Linked DNA regions of Homo sapiens. The protein of the gene in region 2 interacts with the protein of the main gene of each other region in a biochemical or structural test. Each region holds a gene or a part of one and is shown on either strand. Other genes may lie near its edges. The genes, in order: USP46, PHLPP1 and WDR48.

What was found.
Region 1: the proteins of PHLPP1 (region 2) and USP46 form a complex in vitro, tested with the Homo sapiens proteins (one study listed by BioGRID).
Region 3: the proteins of PHLPP1 (region 2) and WDR48 form a complex in vitro, tested with the Homo sapiens proteins (one study listed by BioGRID).

Annotation. Positions count from the first base shown.
Region 1 is NC_000004.12:52,621,271-52,628,382, forward strand, and holds part of USP46 (ubiquitin carboxyl-terminal hydrolase 46), read right to left. Parts: intron 6,894-7,112; coding exon 6,680-6,893; intron 4,978-6,679; coding exon 4,748-4,977; intron 1-4,747. UniProt on the Homo sapiens protein: Deubiquitinating enzyme that plays a role in behavior, possibly by regulating GABA action. May act by mediating the deubiquitination of GAD1/GAD67.
Region 2 is NC_000018.10:62,893,484-62,900,595, reverse strand, and holds part of PHLPP1 (PH domain leucine-rich repeat-containing protein phosphatase 1), read right to left. Parts: intron 5,586-7,112; coding exon 5,439-5,585; intron 4,816-5,438; coding exon 4,585-4,815; intron 1-4,584. UniProt on the Homo sapiens protein: Protein phosphatase involved in regulation of Akt and PKC signaling.
Region 3 is NC_000003.12:39,089,934-39,097,045, forward strand, and holds the end of WDR48 (WD repeat-containing protein 48), read left to right. Parts: intron 1-1,691; coding exon 1,692-1,768; intron 1,769-3,940; coding exon 3,941-4,133; coding exon of another isoform or gene 4,134-4,319; exon of another isoform or gene 4,320-4,714; coding exon 4,715-4,810; 3' UTR 4,811-6,731; downstream 6,732-7,112. UniProt on the Homo sapiens protein: Regulator of deubiquitinating complexes, which acts as a strong activator of USP1, USP12 and USP46. Enhances the USP1-mediated deubiquitination of FANCD2; USP1 being almost inactive by itself.

The DNA.
Region 1 (7,112 bases), on a different chromosome or scaffold from region 2:
ATCGTAGATCTCACAATCCAACAATGTATATAAAAGATAAAGCCCCAATTCAGTTTATTACAAAAATACAAAGTGGGGTCAACATTAGAAACTCTATTAATGTTACTGCACACTGTGGCTCACGTATGTAATCCCAGCACTTTGTGAGGCTGAGGTGGGCAGATCACCTGAGGTCAGGTGTTCAAGACCAGCCTGACCAACTTGGTAAAACCTCATCTCTACTAAAAATACAAAAATTAGCCGGGCGTGGTGGTGCACACCTGTAATCCAGGCTACTCCAGAGGCTGAGACAGGAGAATTGCTTGAACCTGGGACGCAGAGGTTGCAGTGAGCCAAGATCGTGTTACTACACTCCAGCCTGGGTAACAGAGCAAGAGTCTGTCTCACACACATAAAAAAAAAAAAACCTCTACTAATGTAACTAACTTACCACCACTTTAGAAACAATTTGGCACTACCTAGGAAATCTGAAGATGCACATGCCCTATGGCCAGCAATTCTGCTCCCAAAAGGATACCCCAGAGAGAATTTTGCCCATGGGGACCAGGAGATAGTTTGTAGCAGCACTGTCTACAAGCCAAAAACTAGACACACCATAGAAGAACAGAAAAACAAACTGCAGTATATTCCTACAATGGTATACTACAAAATGATAACAATGAATGAACCATGCTACAAGAAATGGCCAATTCTCAAAAATATTAATATAACCTTTAATGATAATAGCAAGTTTAGAAGAATACATGTATGTGATTTCATCTATATAAAAGCCATAAACATGCAGAACTAAGTAAATGTCTAGAAATACACATGCGTATGTATGTACAACTACAAAGAAAAGATAGTATTGACACACAAAATGGAAGACAGTGATCACCTCCTGGGCAAAGGATGAGACTGAGAGGAAAATTAAATTGCAAAGAAGTACACAGTGGGTTTCAAAGTTATTGTTAATGTTCCATTTTTTTATAGGTGTTGGGCATATGGATTTTTTAAACTATTCTTTAAAATGTATATGTGGCCTATATATAAACATACGTTATACACACACACATATACTTCTTTAAAAAAATGATATATTTCCTAATTTAAAAAATAATTTCAAGACTTACCAGTCTAGACCAGGCTTTACTATAAATCATTCCTCAATTCTACCTCATGAAATAAATCAAAATCTTTTCCCATAGCATATAGTTTTCTTCTTCAAGAAACATGACAAACATTTTCATTTATTTATTCACTCAACTATTTATTAATTATTATATGTCAAATACTCCTTGGGCACCAGAGAGAGAAGCAAGACCGACACTATCCCTGTCCTCATCAATCTTACAGTTTAGTAAGAAAGATAGATGCTGCATACGAAATACATATAGATAAATATATAAATACAACAAAGTGCTATCACAGAAAATTAGACTATTGTAAGATGATACAAGGTGACTTCATTAAGTTGGAAGTTCAGAGAAGGCCTCTCTCGGGTTTTAACACAAGTTGAAACCTGAAGAGGATTTAGTCAAGCAACAGGGGCAGGTGGTGTGCATTCCAGACAGAAAGTGGCATGTGCAAAGGACCTGAAGCAGGAAGGGATTTGAAAGGCTTGAGAAGCTACACTGAAGCTAGAGTAAGAAACAGAATGGCAAAGATGACCCTGCAGAGACAGACAGAGCCAGCTTACATAAGAATTTGTAGGCAGTGGTATTTTCAGTGAGACTGCAGGCCACTACTGTACTTTAGGTAGGAGAGTAACATGGAGGAAGGCCAGAGGAAAAAACAGAGAATCCAGTAGGAGTTACTACAGTAGTTTAGTTGAGACTGCCAGCCAAGAGTTGATGGGTGCCTGAGCCAGGATGGGAGTAGCAGGGAGGAAGAAAAGTATCTTAAGGGAGATAGAGCAGACAGGGAGTGGCAACAGAATAGATTTAAGAGGTGAGGTAAGGATGGTGAGAAGGAGTACACCCTTATTAAATGAAAAAGACTGAAAATCTGTCAATTGTCATATTTACAATATAGCCCTAATTTTGATGTTTAAACGTATACAAAGTTATTCTGAAAATAAACTGAATATCAAAAGGAATAAAAAACTATAATGGATTAAAACACATGAAATATGTTAAAATTCATGAGTTCATCACAAAATGGTAACACAAAAGACAGAGGGCGATAAAGTATATTAAAGGCTCTAACTGTTGGAAAAGTGGAAACAAAATGAAATAAGTCAAGGATGCATGTTGTAATCTCTAGAGCAACCTCTAAATGAATTTGGAAATGTAATACATTAGATGCCAAAAAAATGAAAAATATTTCATTGATCCAAAAGAAGAGAGAAAAATGAATATAAAATAGATTAATTAAATAAAAACAAAAAGTAGGGGCCAGGTGCAGTGGCTCACGCCTGTAATCCCAGCACTTTGGGAGCCCAAAGCAGGCAGATTACTTGAGGTCAGGAGTTCGAAACCAGCCTGGCCAACATGGTGAAATCCCATCTCTACTAAAAATACAAGAGTTAGCCAGGCGTGGTGGTGGGCGCCTGTAATCCCAGCTCCTGCTTAGGCAGGAGAATCACTTGAACCCGGGAGGCAGAGGTTGGAGCGAGCTGAGATCAAGCCACTGTACTCCAGCCTAGGCAGCAGAGCGAGATTCTGTTTCAAAAAAAATTAAAAAAATAAAATAAAAATAAAAACAAAGAGTAGGGTGGTAGAAACATACTGCCATTTTACCATACATGTTAAAGTACACCACAAGAATGTTTCCAGAATGTGGGAAATGCTATAGGACAAACACCCTGATTTCTTTAAAAAATAAATTGCAAGGTAAAAAGGGTGTGTTGGGGTTGGGGGGTTGGCGGGGAGGATTAGGATTGGCCAAAGTGTTAACAATCACTGATCCTGAATAATACACACATGGGAAATACCATACTACTGCCTCTACTTTTGTATTCATTTGAATTTTACTGGAATGTAAAGTAGAAAGGAACAGAGGGAAAATGGGAGGGAGAGAAGAAGAGAAAGCAATACAGAGACAGTGGCAGGGAGGGAAGATCTCTGGATACTTATTGGCATATTTATGTGCAGAAAGTGTTTTGACAGGATATATTTTTAAATGTTCAAGTGGTTATCTCTGGGCTAATGTGATCACAAATTTTAGAACGTTACAAATTCACCATCTCTGGGTGGGAAGATTACCGGTAACTTTTAGTCTCTTTTTGTTTAGCTGTGTTTTCTCATTGCTTCTACAATGGGTAAAACAGAATGCTTGACTCAAAAATTGTTTAAAAGCATGGAAGAAAGACTGCCAAAACCTAAAAACTTCTCCCTTTACATAGATGTTGATGTGTAAGTCTACATTTCTTAAACATTTCTGGGTCACAGCTCGCAATGGACTGAATGTCTGTGTCCTCCCAAAATTCATACTTTGAAACCCTCATCTCTAATAGGATGGTATTTGGAGATGGGCCTCTGGGAGGCAAACAGGTCATGAGGGTGGAGCCCTCATGATAAGATTTGTACCCTTATAAAAGGAGACCCGAGAGAGCTTGCTTTCTCTATCTCCACCAAGTGAGGACACAGCCAGAAGACAGCTGTCTGCAAGGCAGAAAGAAGGTCCTCACCAAGAACCTGACCCTGCTAGCACCTTCATCTGGGACTTTCAGCCTCCAGAACTGTGAGAAATGAATTTCTGTTGTTTAAGCAACTCATGAGGGATTGCGTTGTAGCAGACCAGACTAAGACACAGGCTCTTTGCAAAATCTGACAAAAGCTACTACCTCTCTTTCCAGAAAAATGCACAATCTTATAGAATTTTCCATACAATGTCAGGAAACTCTGAGATCCTTAATGAACCCATAGACTTTCTATGCTGTCAGTAGTAGTTATAATAAAAAATAATACCTGACATTTATTGCCTACTTGCCATGTGCCAAGCATGGCTCTAGGTGTCAACTCATTTAATCCTCCCACCAACCCTCCAAGATGGGCATTCTCATCATCCCTATTTTATAGATGAAGAAAGTGAGGACAGAGAAGATTAATAATTTGCACAGGTTCCACTAGCTAACAAGCAGAAAAGCCAGCATACAAACTTGGGCAGCCTGGCTCCAGAGCTCAGCTCTTAAGCAGCAAAATATGAGGCCACCCACAGAGTTGAAGTTAAACATGCCAAGAAAATATGACATCCTGAATCATGCTCTGGAGAACATGTCTTCAAATTCAATTAACATTATGTACCTACCATGTGTCAGACCCATCCAAACACATAAGCTCATCCAACCCTCAAAACAGTGCTGTAAGTAACTCGCCCCAAATACCCAGTTAACTGCTGTAAAAACAGGAGTCTAGCCTGTCTTCTGACTTCAAGTTCAACATACCACAGCTGACTGCCTCTAAACTGGGGTGATGGTCCTGTTCTACATCACACAAGACCTCCCCATGACCAAAATCTTTGCAAGGTAACTGGTTGACATCCAATTCAATAGATTAAATCTGTAGACCCCAAAATTTCCCCATGGTGTAAAGCAATTCAGCATTTGAGGAGATTTTCCTTTATTATTCAGCTTTGGCCTGCTGAGACATCCTGGATGGATATGTGCTTCCAAAAGTTTGTACTTGAGTTTCATATGCATAAATAGGATTATTTACATACACTGCAAATAACTGCTAAATGCTATAATACGACATTGCAATCACATGCAACATAGCGTACATAAATATGAACATGCGAGCTACATAAGAGCTCCCCTAGTACTTACAGTTTCACAGTTCAAGCATCGAGTTTCATTGGTAAGCGTTCCCTGAAAAATCTCATGGACCCAGGTGAGTTCTGGTTTATTATTTTCCGCAGGTTCGTTCATGTTGCCATTTTTTAATTTTCCATTTTGTTTTTCCTGTTTCTTCTCCTCCTGAAGGATGTCCGCAATAGTGTTTAGCAAATAATTTAAAAATTCATGAGCATCCTGCTGCATGTAGTTATCAAAGAGATCTGGAAAGGAGAAGGTGGTTATTTCAGTCTCTGGTTCTTGAAAAGCAAATGGATGTAATTAGTGTTACATGCCATACTTAAATATTTTTTTTTTGAGATGGAGTCTCGCTGTGTCGCCAGGCTAGAGCGTAGTGGCATGATCTCAGTTCACTGCAACCTCTGCCTCCCAGGTTCAAGCAATTCTCCTGCCTCAGCCTCTTGAGTAGCTGGACTACAGGTGCATGCCACCACACCCAGCTAGCTAATTTTTGTATTTTTAGTAGAGACCAGGTTCACCATGTTGGCCAGGATGGTCTCAATCTCTTGACCTTGTGATTTGCCCACCCTGGCCTCCCAAAGTGCCGGGATTACAGACGTGAGCCACCGCGCCTGGCCCATACTTCAACTTTTATATTGAAAGGATGGACAGGTATGGAATATAAATATACTCATCTCTACCAGGCAGCTTCAATGAGTAAGTTTCCAAAGAGCTTTTTTAATTCATTTCCATTTTCTGCCATGCACCAAGAACAAAATTTCCCGTATCTCCCTAAAGTCATCACATTTATATAAAACTACCAAAAGTTCTATTTGTTCTACAAAGGAACAGAAGTTATCAGATAAGTTCCCTGATAAAATATCAATTTTTAATATGATGTAACTACCAATGATCAATTAATTATTCATTGGGTAATTTATTCAGAGCAACTGGGGTGTCCTCCCAAAGATCATATTAAACCCTGGACCAGCCTGGAAGCAGCTTAGATGAAACACAGAAGGGAGATGAGGGTATGTGTGAGCAAGCATCTATCTGATAGTGTTCCGAAACCAAATACAAATGATTCCAGAAGCCTAGTGCTGCTCCCTGCCATAAGGACAAACAATCAGAGATGAATGCAGCTGTGAACCTTCATTATTAATCACGTTCACAACTCGACAGAGTGCTCTGCTTCCTTCTCCACTGAAATTAGTTTTAATCTGGTATGTATAAACTGTAACTTCAAAATACAGCAATCAAATTAAAAGAGACTTTATAAAACAAATACCTGATTAACCATGCACGTCTGATGAAGTAAGGCTGAATCTAAGATAAATAGTAATTGCCATAACAAATATCTTTATAGTCATAAAAACTGCCAATACAAAACTTCTGGAATACACACCTAGTTTCTACTACCAATCCCCCAGAAGAAGAAGATAGAAAAACCAGAAAAATCAGGACTTTTAAAAACCATATAAAGCAATCAATTTGATATCCTTCAATTACCTCAGGCAAATGAAAATCAGAGGTATTGTATTTAAAACAGCAGAGGCTCTGATTAGATAACAGGCACTTATTTTAATCACCTATGACAAGTTTATAAGCCAGTACTATTTTATTTAATTATTGCATCAACCAATTTAGGCCAATGAGTATCCCACTCCGAAGGCTGCCTTGGACACTATTCTCTCTTACAATGATCCTGCCCAGAATGGAGCAAATAAAATGGTCATTCTAAATTGGAATAATAAATGTGCGTTTTTAAGCATGTTTCTAACCCAGTTTTGTTTTAAGTTTACTGGGCAGAGAAGAAATGTTGTTTCTTAAAAAATGACACCGAGTAGTTAACCATGCTTATTTTCCCTTTTCAAAAAAATGCCAGCTCTTCCTTTTGAGGAGATACAGAACCATCAATTCTCCTTATTTCAGAGGCTTAAATACATTATACTGCATACTACTCACCATTCTCTTTTCTCAGCCTTGAAATGAACTTCTTTGGTGGGATGACGCCAACCTTCTTCTTCTGTGTGGCAATGCTGTGGAAAAGGTCCGCCAGGCACGTCAGCAAGTTTTCCTTCTTCTTTTGCTGGGCCTTGTATGCCAACACATTCTCCCGGAATGGACGGCAGAAGTACAATGCCTGAAGCACGGAGTTACAGTAGCATGTGTTTCCAAACTGCCAAGGGACAAGAGGGATGGCTCAAGTCATTGCCTGGGGATGAGCCACCTCTGGAATAAGTGGTGAGGGTGAGAAGGTCCCTGCTCCGTGAACTGGCCTGGATGTCCCTGTATTGGAGTCCAGCTCACCATATTAGAAAACTAGTTAACTACTCTAAACACCAGTGACCATCTGATCCACAGAGAAATGAAGAAAAATGCACATCATTCCGGTGCT
Region 2 (7,112 bases):
TATTTGAGAGGCTGGGGCAGGAAGATCACTCGAACCCAGGAGTTTGAGGCTGCAGTGAACTGTGATTGCACCACAGCTTGGGTAACAAGCTGTGATTGCATTCCAGCTTGGGTAACAAAGTGAGACCCTGTCTCAAAAAAAAAAAAAAAAAAAAAAAAAAAAGAAAGAAAAAGAAAAAACAAGAATACAAACAACTACAACATATTGTTGACCACAGTCACCATGATGTAACTAGGACAAACTTTTTATTTATTTATTTATTTATTTATTTATTTATTTATTTATTTATTTATTATTTTAAGGCAAAGTCTTGCTCTGTCACCCAGGTTGGAGTGCAGTGGTGCGATCTTGGCCCACTGCAACCTCCGCCTCCTGGGTTCAAACAAGTCTCCTGCCTTAGCCTACCGAGTAGTTGGGACTACAGGAACATGCCACCACAGCCAGCTAATTTTTGCATTTTTAGTAGAGGCGGGGTTTTGCCATGTTGGCCAGGCTGGTCTTGAACTCCTGACCTCAGGTGATCCACCTGCCTCGGCCTCCCAAAGTGCTGAGATTACAGGCAGGAGCCACTGCACCTGGCCCAGACAAACTTTTTAAAAGGCAAAATATGATGAAAATTCCCTTCTGGCCAGGCGTGGTTACTCATGCCTGTAATTCTCAGCACTTGGGGAGGCTAAGGCAGGAGAACAACTTGAGCCCAAGAGTTTGAGCCAGCCTAGGCAACAAACTGCGGTCCCATCTCTCTAAAAAATTTAAAAATTAGCCAAGTGTGGTAGTGTGTACTTTTCATCCCAGCTACACAGGAGGCTGAGGGAGGGGGATCACTTAAGTCCAGGAGATCAAGGCTCTAATGACCTGCGCTTGTACCGCTGCACTCCAGCCTGTAGAAGGGCTATGGTGATGGTGACAACGATGATGACCTATGGCTTTGTTGCAGTAAGAGATGAATAAAACAAGGTGTTTTTCAACAGATTTCACAATTTAGTAAGGAGAGTCAAATATGTTTTATAAAATACAGGAACTACAGGTATGTGGTAAGTGCCACGAATGATGTATAAAATGTAGAGAATGGTTTTTTAAAAAAGAGGCTATGGAAAAGGAAGCAAATCATCTGATTCCCAAGAGTAGGCAGAATGGAACAGGTGTACATGGGAGAAGAAAAGCAGGTGCGAGGAAGCAATGGAACAGCCTCTGCATCAAACAGAAGAGCACAGGGCAAGTTTGGTGCCTGCCTGAATAGCTTCTACAGGAGGGCAGGGGATGCAAGGGTCTGTGCTACAAAGGTGGGTGAGGCAATTAACCAAGGACTGGACCTACTAAGGACTCACACTGGGGTTGAAGGATAAATAAAAACAGTGCTTAAATTATCTATGGTGAAGGAGACCTATTTTCTAAAGTTGTAATTCATGACAGACTGATGTATAGTACACAACCCATACACAGCTCACATCACATGCAACTCACTGTGCAAGTTTGACAACATCTAAATTAGTTGAGGCCAGGCGCAGTGGCTCATGGCTGTAATCCCAGCACTTTGGGAGGCCGAAGCAGTTGGATCACTTGAGGTCAGGAGTTTGAGACCAACCTGGCCAACATGGTGAAACCCTGTCTCTACTAAAAATACAAAAAATTAGCCGGTCATGGTGATGGGCGCCTGTAATCCCAGTTACTTGGGAGGCTGAGGCAGGAAAATTGCTTAAATCTGGGAAGCGGAGGTTGCAGTGAGCCGAGATCACACCACTGCACTCCAGTCTGGGCAACAAGAAATTCCGTCTCAAAAAATAATAATAATAATAATAAATAAAACAAAATAAAAAAAACTAGTTGATTCCCTGTACAGCAAGAATCAACTCGTAATGCAGTTGGATATTGTGGCAATGTCAAATCATTATATGTTACTAAAATATTAGTCTTAACTTCTGTACACATCTCATTGTGGAAAAGTAGCAAATAGTTAACTTGCCACCACAGGTTGGAGGCCCACACATGAGCAGCTCAGAGATAGAGCCTCATCCTCAAATGACTCACATACCAGTGGGCTGAAACCAAATATGAGGGCTTGAGTACCTTGAACTAGAGAACCGCAGGCTCTGAGCAAAATTGTGCTTGCTTGGGAGGCTGCACAATGGAAGCAAATGGCTCAGGTAGAAGACAACAGTCACAGTGAGAAGAAAAAGGAAGGGATAAAAGACAGAAACTCATGTAAAAGAAGAGCTGACAGAATCAGCCAAGAGTTGTGTGTCTGGAAAACCAATGAGGTGGTGTTGCTATCAGCAAAAAAAGAAATCCATGAGAAAGAATTGGTTGAGTAAGAAAGACACTGAACTCTGTTTTACATGTATTTGGTTAAATGTGTGAATAGGGAAAACCAAGAAGTTATCCAGCTGGCAGCTTAAGTGGAACTGGTCTCAAGAAGTCAAAGAAGGAATAGGGAAAGACTGGGGAATGATTAACATCAAGATGAAAGGTGAAAATGAAGCCTGAGAGTATATGCAACCCCCAAGGCAGAAAACATGGATAGAAAGAGAACTGACCAAGAAGTAACAGCCACACTTTGTACAAAGAGGAGAAAGAGGAGAAGGGAGGAGGAATTATTAATGATGCCACAGAAGAAATAATATCAAACTCAAACAACATCAATGCAAAGAAAAAAATAATCAATCTGATGTACCATTTCCATTTAAAGGGAAAAAAAATTGAATAAAAGTGGCCCTTTACTTAGAGAAACTAAGCAAGACTCTCCTTAAATTACTCCACTAGCTTTGATTTTAAGTATTAAGGCAGAATTAGGCTGGGTGTGGTGGCTCATGTCTGTAATTCCAGCACTTTGAGAGGTCGAGGCAGGTGGATCACTTGAGGTCAGGAGTTCAAGACCAGTCTGGCCAATATGGTGAACCCCTGTCTTCAGTAAAAATACAAAAACTAGCCAGGTGTGGTGGCGGGCACTTGTAATCCCAGCTACTCGGGAGGTTGAGGGAGGAGAATCTCTTGAACCCAGGAGGTGGAGGTTGCAGTGAGCTGAGATCATGCCACTGCACTCCAGCCTGGGCGACAGACAGATACTCTATCTCTGAAAACAGAAGCAAAAACAAAAACAATAAACAACAAATAAAGTATTAAGGCAGAATTAGAACAAACCTATCTGATTTTCCCCTCCTCAGCTCAGGAGCCAGGAAGGAAGCAGTTACTCATGGTCATGCAACATTTACAGAGTGTCTAATGTCTATTCTGGTATTTAAATATCCTGTAGGTGATGTCATCTAAAAACTCAAGTTAGAACTATGAATCTGAAGAATTTATAAAGCTCTTACTAAGATTTATTACTTCCAGACATTTCAGATTGATCTTATGTGTAAGCTAATTCAGATCAAGAAAAATGATGTCTCCCTACATGTACCAGGTAACTCAGAAATCATCTCATTCTTACTACCTGAGGTCAGTGCAAGCCATTGTCCTTGGCTCTAATGAAGTTCTACCACTGGTGGATGAATAAAATAGGGCTCAAATTCTGGAATATGAGGGTTTTCTAAATACAAGGAACTCAAGAGGCAAATAATGTTAACAATTTAGAAAGCAAGTTAACAAAGTGTTTAGAGTTCCTTATCTTGTCACATTCCAAGAAATTCTCAAAAATCAGATAAATTATAACCACTTTTACCTCCAAATTAAGAATTTTATATCTGCAAATTGCTAATACTTCCCTAGGAGGGACAGGTCTGATTCCTTTATTCTGAGGAAAGGTGAAGCCAAGCAATTCTTTATGGGACTGGAATGTATAGGTTTCCTAGGCTGAACCATATGAAAGGAGAAGAAAGGGGAGCAAAAGGTGATGCTCCTTTACACTGATGAAACTGAACATGCCTGAGTACTTGGGAGGCTGAGGCAGGAAGATCACCTGAGCCCAGGAGTTTGAGGCTGCAGTGAGCTCTGAGCACATCATTACACTCCAGGCCGGGCAAGAGAGCAAGGCCCCATCTCTTTAAAAACAACAACAAAAAACAGGACGGGCATGGTGGCTCATGCCTGTAATCCCAGCACTTTGGGAGGCCGAGGCGGGTGGATCACGAGGTCAGGAGATCGAGACCATCCTGGCTACTAACACAGTGAAACTTCGTCTCTACTAAAAATACAAAAAAATTAGCCAGGCATGGTGGTGGGTGCCTGTAGTCCCAGCTACTAGGGAGGCTGAGACAGGAGAATGGCATGAACCTGGCAGGCGGAGCTTGCAGTAAGCCGAGATCAGGCCACCGCACTCCAGCCTGGGCGACAGAGCGAGACTTTGACTCAAAAAAAAAAAAAACAAGAACAACAAAAAAAACAAAAACCAACAACAACAACAAAAAACAGCTCTCTCACTCAACTGGGTTCCAATCTGCAAAACAAAGACCTTCAAGACATACATCAGTGAGAGTTTCCAGTAATAGCAAACCCTACTATTAATCATAATTCTTCCCTCTAGGCAGAAATAGAAAAACGGGCCCACATTCAATTACCCAGCTTGTTTGCCTTGGTTAATAACCTACTCCCCACCCCTGCAATATAAGCCAGCCACTCAAATGAGATCTATTTCTCAAAAATGGTTACCTTAGATCCACATGTTTAATGTGAGGCATTTTTCTTAAAGCCTGTAGCCTAAGGGTCTCCACACAGTTTCCAGACATACAAAGTTTATCCACAGCAGTCAATTTCTCCAATACTTCGGGAATGTCAGTAAATTCATTGAAAGAAAGACCCAGATAACTAAGCTGCTTCATGTTCTCCAACTCAGCAGGAAGGGATTGGAGAAAGTTTCCATCCAACAAAAATGTCTGTAAGCTATTAGAGAAAACATAAGAATTACAAAGAGAACATATAAATTTTACATCTTTATTATCAACATACAAGTTCCATAAGTGTAGACCGTATTACCAGAAAATGTATTATTCTTCGCAAAATGCCTAAGGGCAGGGCCTGAGGCAATAATGGACCAAAGAGAAATAATCAGAGATAAGCATCTTAATCTTTTATTGAAAATGAAAATCATGACTAGTTTTCCCAATTTGAATAGGCTTAAATGGGAGCAATGTGAGCTAACTGTGATATGAATTGATTCAGATATCCTTTGGGCTTTCCTTGTTATTTCTTAAAATTAATTTCTAAGTCTTAAAATTCAATATAACTCAGAAAAATGAGAACATAACCCACATTCCATGTTTAGACATACTCATCTGTAGGGATCTTCAGTTCTAAACAAGAATATTTAATTTTTTTACAAGACTGTAAGGAGTACAAATCCAACATATGAACTCCATACGGACTACATAGTCCCTGATCTCTTGATTTGGGGCCAAGACTTACATGAGCAACATAACAAGTTAACTAATCTCATGTGCCACACCCCCAATGCAGCTTCCCTGGGGCTTCTGGATATACCCGCCAGTGGGGTTTGAAGTACACACTTGTGCATCACTCCAACGGCTGCCGGGACTGATCGCAGGGCATTGCAGGACACGTTCAGCTCTGCCAGGGTTGGAATACTGCAGACTGCCAGTGGGAAGTCCCCTAAATGATTATTGGAAAGGTTAAGACTCTTCAACTTGGTGAACCTATTACAATAAAGCAAAACAAAAGGGAAAAAAGAGACAAATGTCATTAACATCATAATTTTAGCATAGCCTAAGAGATAATCTAGCCCAACTCCCAAATTCAACTAAAGAGGAAATGGGGGCCCCAGAGAGGTTAAGGAGCAGCAGCACTGGAATGCACATCTGCTGACTCTAAGGCCAGTGTTTTACCTAAAATGTAAACATTCTATCTAAAAACAAACTTTTCCCTCTAAAATAAGGTTGAATATTTCAGGAAGTGAATTCTGCTGGAGAAAGCTTTCTAGCAGTATCTCAATTAGCTTAATTAACACAGTGTAAATGGCCCCAGTGAAGGAGGAAAGGGACCAGGCAGAGCTGGCGTTAGCCCTTCTGGAGTCGGTGCTGTTTCAGACAAGTCAAAAACTCCTGTTTCATGTTTCTCAAACCCAAAACTGAAATAATAAAAACTTATCAAAACAATACTCTCTCTAAGGTAACCAGGACTTCGCAGTTCCAAATTTAAGAACCAATTATCAGCTGGGCCTGGTGGCTCAGGCCTGTAATCCTAGCACTTTGAGAAGCCGAGATGAGTGGATCACTTGAGGCCAGAAGTTTGGGACCAGCCTGGCCAACATGGTGAAACCCCATCTCTACCAAAAACACAAAAAATTAGCCGGGCCTGGTGGTGCACCCCTGTAATCCCAGCTACTCAGGAGGCTGAGGCACAAGAATCACTTGAACCTGGGAGGTGGAGGTTGCAGTGAGCTGAGATTGCACTCCTGGAATGTAGCCTGGGCGACAGAGTGACACTCTATCTCAAAAAAGAACCAATTATCATTCGTCGATCTCAATACAGTACTTGATTGATGCTGCTGACCACACACCCTTCTTCTTAGCTCTCTTAAGCCCTCTTCTCATGTATTACCTTCCTTTTCTTCATCTTTTCTTCCCCAACCCAAATTGAAGTAATCTTCATAGATAGGTTTTTTAGCAGTTTCATGCTCTCTCTACACTGTTTTCCTTGGAAATGTTTTGACTCCTATGTGAGCAATTATCTCAGTCCTATCACATGCTGGCTCCTCTCCTGAGCTACCCCACATTTCCAGCCCCAAACTGAACTTACCATCTTTATTCCAAACTGGCACTTCTTTTTCCTCTATTTTTGTTAATAGCCCTTTCATTTTCACAGTTGCCCAAGCAACTTAAGCAATTAAAGAAGCTATCTTTAATTTTTTACTTCTCTGTGCACTCTTACATTTGGCCTATCAACGACCTCTACACCATCTCTAAGTAAGATAAGAATCATATTAGTGACTGCGTTATGCTAACTCCTTTAAAAACCGCCCACGTCTAATCCTAGACAGTATGCACTCTGCCTAGAAGAGACACACACACTCTAAAAATAAACACAATTCAACCCAATCAGTATATGTTAAGCTGTATTCTAAATAGTTAAATAAAAGTTGATTCTAAATGGAAAGCTGACCATGTACCTATTTGACAGGTTGAGTGTTACCTTGATTTTTAAATAATACCTGTTTACTTGGA
Region 3 (7,112 bases), on a different chromosome or scaffold from region 2:
TCTATTACAAATAGTGCTGCAGTGAACATCCTTGTACATATATCTTTGTGTGCTTTTTAGGATAAATTCCTAGAAGTGGAATTGCTGGATCCAAGGTTATGCACATTTTAAATTTTGATAGATACTGCCAAATTGCCCTCCACAAAGGCTGTAGTAGTCTACATTCTCACCAACAGTGTATGAGTGCCCATTTCCCCACACCTGCACCAACACTGGATACTTCTAATCTTTGCTAAAAAATAGGCAAATAGTATCTCATTATTTTTATGTGGATTAAAAACAAATTAATAGTGAGGTTAAGCATCTTTTCATATTGGCCATTTGTTTTTCTTCTGTGAATTACCTGTTTGTATTCTTTACCCATTTTTCTATTGGGTCATTTTTCTTACTGATTTGTGGGGTGGTGGTTTATATTGAATATTAACCCTTTAACTATTATCTGTGTCTCAATTAAATTTTCACTTTGTTCCTTTTGCCAGGTGAAAAGTTTTACTTTTTATATAATCAAATTGATCCTTGATGGCTCTTAGTTTCATGTCTTGTTTAGGTATTTCCTACTCCAAAGTAACAAAAATATTCTCCTATATTCTCTTCTAGTTCTTTTATGATAATTATGTCTAGCTCTCTAATCTATTAGAATTTAGTCTTCTGTTTGGTGTGAAGTAGGATTTAGACTTTTTCCAAAGGGACAGCTAGTGTGCTAGCACAATTTATTGAAAATCTGTCCTTTTTCTACTTATCTGGGATGCTATGTTTATCATGTACTAAATTTCTGTATACACATGGGTCTGCTTCTAGACTCTCTTATGTACTGTTGGTCTATTTTGTATCTTTCTAAAGCCATATGAAAAGGAATTTAATCTTTAGAACCTTCAGAAACTTTATTTTCTGTCCCGGATATACCTCTAAGACTTAAAGCCAATGTGACACCTGATGGATATTCCATGGTCTTCTCTATGCCTGAGCACCCCATAAGCCACTAATTTCTTTGAGTGTGAAACTCACCTGGGACGCATTGCTGACTTTAGCCCTGTGGCTTATTCTTGAGAGGAGACATCCAGACAGGATGTGACATGAAGGCTTGGAGGGGATTAATACCCTGAGAAAAGATGACCACGTAATTTTATCCTTCATCTAAGAATGTGGTTTACTTCATGGTAGACATCTGGGTTCTTGGCTGAAGTTTCCACTCTTTCTTAACACCTCAGACCTCACTGTGATGTCAGAGGGAAAGAAAATGGGAGGACTTTGATTGGCCTTTTCAGTTGGATGATGGGCCTCACCAGCACAGAATGTGTGGCTTTGCTCAAAGGTGAATGCTGTGGGTTTCTCTCAAGACACTTAAGTTTTTGTTTGGGCCTTTAGGTATCAACTCCAATATTTTAATGTAGAATTGAGATTCTGGTTTGTATGGCTTAAAAAATTAAAGTTTGTTTCCCTTTAATACCTTGTACTGTTATCTAAGAAGAGCCATGCTACAATTTCATATTACCTCTAATGTTACATATATTTTTCTGATGAATTTTCTCGAAGGCTGACTTAGGTAATTTGATAGCTTACTATACATTTCATAGAAAGTCACTTTTAATTGTAAGATAATTATTACTTGCAAGTCATGTTTTCCTATTAACATTATTTTCATTTATCAACTAATAGAAACTGTTATACCTTTTTAACTTTTACTGTTTCAGAAAAATATGCCCAAATTCAACAAAATTCCTTTCTACCTCCAACCTCATGCATCTTCAGGAGCAAAAACCTTAAAAAAGTAAGTAAATATATGGTTTCTTGATCTAATTAACTACTAGAGAGAATTCCTTTTCCTTATGATTGCTTTTATAGCAAAGGAAGCAAATACCAGATCTAAGGCTGATTTTATAATATTCAAAGTTTATACAATTAAACCACTTACCAGGTACCAACTTTGGCCGATTACAGGTGTTCAAAAATAAATAAGGCCAGGTACAGTGGCTCACGCCCATAATCCCAACACTTTGGGAGGGTGAGGTGGGAGGATTAATTGAGGCCAGGAGTTTGAGACCAGCCTGAGCAACGTAGTGAGACTCCTGTCTCTACAAAAGATTTAAGTAAAAAAATTAGCTGGGCATGGGAGCACACGCTTGTAGTCCAAGCTAGCCAGGAGGCTAAGGCAGGAGGATCATCAGAAGTTTGAGGCTGCAGTGAGCAAAGATCATGCTACTGCACTCCAGCTTGGGCAACAGAGAGAGACCCTGTCTCTAAGAAAAAAATGATAAATAAAACACACATTTTGTCTGTTGCCTTAATTCACAGTTTAGGACCCAACCTGTATATAATAGTTGTTTTTATGGATACTTAAGGAATAATGAGAGTGAGAGAAATAAATGAGCTTTTGGCTGGAGCTTCCCAGTAAGGCTTCTTGAAGGACGTGGAATTTGAGTTGGACATGTAATGATTGGTAGAACTTCAAAAGATAGATATTCCAAGTCCAGGACACAGTGTGATCAGGGATGTGGAAGTGGGAGCATGCATAAGATAGTGGAAAGTAACGTGAGGACCCATGCACCTGCAGCATGGGATGGAGGGGCAGCAGGGGGATATTAGGAGGTAAATTGGAAAAGCAGTTAAAGGTTTTGTTGATGTTGGATTTGAATGCCAAGCCATAGAGCGTGCAGTGACTAAACACCAGAAACTTTTGAGCCAATGTGGGATATGGTCCAGGGAGACCCAAGAGAAGAATTTTAGTAGTGTAGTAATGGGATGCTAAACTATGAACAATATGTATTCTAGCAAATAAAATAAAAAAAATTTTTAAACCTTTTTATTACAGAGATTTCCAAACTTATATAGAAAGAAGCTAGTGAGCCCCCATCGTCCCATCAGATAGCTTCAGTAATTATCAATACCTTGCTAAACATTTTGCTTCACCTATACCTCTACCTGCCCTCCCACCCATCTCTGTCTACACACACACACACACACACACACACACACAATTATTTTAAAGTGAGTCCTAGACATCAGTTCAGATAGATTTAACAACTGAAGTTCAAATGATTTTCAGAGCGTAGGCCTTAGTTTTTTGGTATAATAGTTATTGACTGTTATCAGAGATACAGAAGTAGGGTGTTGATGAGTCTAGTTTGGGACATACAGAGTTTGAGGTGCCTGTAGGACATCCAACTGAAGATACCCAACCAGCTGTTGGGTTTGTGGTTTAGAAGAGAAGGTTGAGACTCAAGGTCTAGACTCAGGCATTGTCTGCTCACAGGTGCTAGCTGAAGGCATGGCAGTGGGGAGGAGAGCCCAGGGAAAATTGAGCACTAAGAGTGTCGGACCCTGGTAAGCACTGGGAGCTGCCTGCCTTTCCAGAATTATTTAGTTTGCCCAGGTTCTGGGAAAGTATTCAAGGGAATAAAACCCAGAAGGCTACTATGTATGTATATGTAAATGTTTTTGTTTGTTTTTCTGAGATGGAGTCTCACTCTGTCGCCCAGGCTAGAGTGCAGTGGCGTATCTTGGCTCACTGCAGCCTCTGCATCCTGAGTAGCTGGAATTACAGGCGTGCACCACCATGCCCAGCTAATTTTTTGTATTTTAGTAGAGACGGGATTTCACCATGTTGGTTAGCCAGGCTGGTCTTGAACTCCTGATCTGAAGTGATCCACCTGCCTTGGCCTCCCAAAGTGCTGAGATTATAGGCGTGAGCCACCACACCTGGCCTGTATATGTCAAGTTTTAAGAACACATATTAATCTCATTTAGTTGTACATAAACTGTGTCTTAGAAGGACACTGTAGAAAATCTTTCCGCAGCTCTAAAAATGGATTAAGGTAATGACTAAAAACATTTATTGGTTTATTTTTCATCTTTAAAATGTTTGCATCAAAGAAAAATAATATGGAATAAATAATATCTAGTGATTTCCCTGATGTCACAATATGCCATTGCTTTTTTACAGAGATAGACTCTCTGCTAGTGACATGCTCCAAGTCCGAAAAGTTATGGAACATGTTTATGAAAAAATTATCAACTTGGATAATGAGTCTCAAACCACTAGCTCTTCTAATAATGAAAAACCAGGAGAACAGGAAAAAGAAGAAGATATTGCTGTGTTGGCAGAGGAGAAAATTGAACTTTTGTGCCAGGACCAGGTAAGTGGACTTGAGGACTACAGCCCCAATTTTTCCAGTGCTGGTGCTCATAAAGAGTTACATGCCTTTGGGTGGGGGGCTTCTACTTTTAGAGGGGCTCTAAGGAGCCCTGGGCCTCTCCTACCTAAAGCCCACCCTAAAGCTCCTCTTTACTGCTGGGGAGATTTTCAGAGAAGGGATACATAGACAAATGTGGATGTGCTGGTAGCTTTTTTTTCTGACAAGAAAAAAGACACATGGTCTTCTTGATTTGCAAAAAGCATGTGCCATGTTTATGATTTAGAGTGAAGGTGTGCGGAGAAATGGCAGAACTGTTTTTTAAATCAAGATGCACTCAAAACGTATCCTCAGAGGAATGGCTGAAAGATGGCCTGGTGTTTCTGGCATAGTCACAAAAGATGTACATCTCACTAAGCTCAATTTCATTCCCGCATGCATGGAAGCCGTGACAGCAAGAATTGGATACCAGGCATAGGGGAGGAGTGAGCAAGCTGGATCACCTGATGAGAGTCCCTGAGTTAATGATAAGGTTTTAGATATTAGAGACTTTGAAATTTTTAAATTTAATTTTGGCTATTCAGGTTTTGGATCCAAATATGGACCTTCGAACAGTGAAACACTTCATATGGAAGAGCGGTGGAGACCTCACCCTCCATTACCGTCAGAAGTCCACGTGAAGGCTGGGCTAATGCTCCTGGATATTCATTTACGACCTTCCTCTATGGCCCCAAGAGTAGTCCTAGGAAGCCCACTGATCCCCAACGGGAGCAAGACTTCTAACGGCTGATTGGTATGGACCGAGATTATCTTTCAATTGAAGTGACTAATCGAGATGTAATATAGAAACCAGTCTCCATGTGTAGATTAAGCTGTCCCCAGGGAAGCAGAGTGCAAGAGCAGAAGAGCCCCAAGCAGACTATGTCTTTCAAGATGTACAGAAGACTGACAACAGGCCAGTGCAGACTTTGCTTCCTCCTTTTGTTTCAAAGGACCTTATCTACCCATTAACACTTGTTAGAGACACCTCAGTCGGGCCACAACTGTCTCTGTTTCAACTTTAAGCCCACACACTCTGTAGCTTTTCTAAAACAGTACATTCCATTCATGCAGTAGATATGAAGGCTTTTTCCAAGTTTGTCATATAAAGTAATCAAATTGTTTTCACCGTTTAAGACAGTTATTTTTAATGGGAATTTGCTGTTGCACAATTTGAGAACCAGCCCATTTCATAATAAAAGATTAATGTTGGGCTTGTTGTTAATATTGCATCTCAGATGTGTTCTTGTAGGAAGATCTGTTGAAATTCCAGGTGCTGGATCATAGCACTTGGACTGTTGGGCCGGAGTTTGTGCAGCCCATGCCTAGCGATGCTGCACCTCCCATGATGTCCTGGCTTTGTGGCAACCCCAGGGAGGTGCAGCAGTTTCACTCCTTCCTCCACTGTGTCCAGTTTTATTTACACAAAGCGAGCTGAGACCACAGGTTCTTGCTCTGGATGAGCAGCATGACACCATCAAAATTTAAGACCATGATGAAATTTCAGTTTCATTCAAATGTTACCTAAAATTTATGGTGTCAGAATAAAGGGAGATCATAGTGAGTTAATTTGATATTCATATCCTGGAAGTATACATATTTGTTTTTCCAAAGTTTTATATGCAGGTTTTTGTTGTACCTGTATCCAGATCTTCTTTTCACTGTTCTAACAATCTAACACTTTCATAGAATCATTTGGATCTTGTATAGAGTGTAACTTATTGGGGATAAACACTTCAACTTTTGGCAGAAAATACTTTGGATTCTCCCCAAGGTCATTTGTATTCAGAGTAAATCAGTGGTCCACCCCCATAAAACTGTAAGACAAGCCTCCTGTATGAAGCCAGAAGCACAAGTGCCTTCAGAGGGCAGTTGATTCCAGTCCAGTTGCCTCCCTAGCTTGTGTGTGGCCTGCCTCCACCATAGCAGGGACTAGGGAGGGAGGCAGGGAACGTTTTTTCTTTTCTACATCTTCACAGGTTCGGCTGGGGGCAGCTGATAGGCCTAAGGCCATACCTTACTATTTAAGATACTCTGATCGCACAACTGCAGAGACAGGGTTCCCTCACTGCTAGTCAGCTTCTTTTGGAAACTGGACAGGCCATTGCCACCTGCACTTTGAAGAAGTGAGCAAAGACGTGGCCACATTTCTAATAAGTTGAAATGGTCTTTCTCCCTTCCTCAGAGAGCAACCAGCTTCTTTTTTTTTAAAAGTCCTTTCTATCTGTTGGATACAACAGTGTGCTTTTGGTGCACATTTTTTAGCAATAGTTGTGAATTAATGGCAAAGAAAAAAAAAATTATTTACCAGCCCTCAGTTGTGTTTGCCCGAGGGGCCTTTGAGCAAAGAAATGGGTTTTGCTGGGTCATTTTGCCCTGTGTGCTAAGCCTTGGGTGGCTGCATTCCCCTCCTGTCATAGATCTGACCCCCAGCATGATTGTATTTCTTTCCCCTCCAGTCAAACCGTAATACAGTTTCCAGAAAATTCGACAGTCTGCAATGCCAAAAGGGTAAAAATCTGTATTTCACAGTTGTATAGAATAAAGGCTTTAGTTAAAATATTTCAAAGTGTAGTACACATTTATTTTCATTTGTTATTTTCTTTCATAGCAGATTACAGAGAAAGAAAGAAACCTCTGGTTTCATGTTCTCCCTGGAAATATTAGCATTGATACCCATTTTATCCTCCAACTTATGGGGGAAGGGAAAGTAAAAGTGAGGGAGGGAAGAGCCAGAACCTTTGGGTGAGGGCAACTTTGGGTCAGACTGCCAGGCTACAGAGTTAAGGGAAGCTGGCCCCAGAACAGTCCTGTGGCGATTCTGTTCTACTTCCTGCATTCCAGCAGACTTGACACTGGGCTCCCAGACGATCCAGGACACAATGCCTCACTGTTATGCACACGTATCAGCTGCTCTGGTAGGCTTGACAAGGGTTTGCTTTA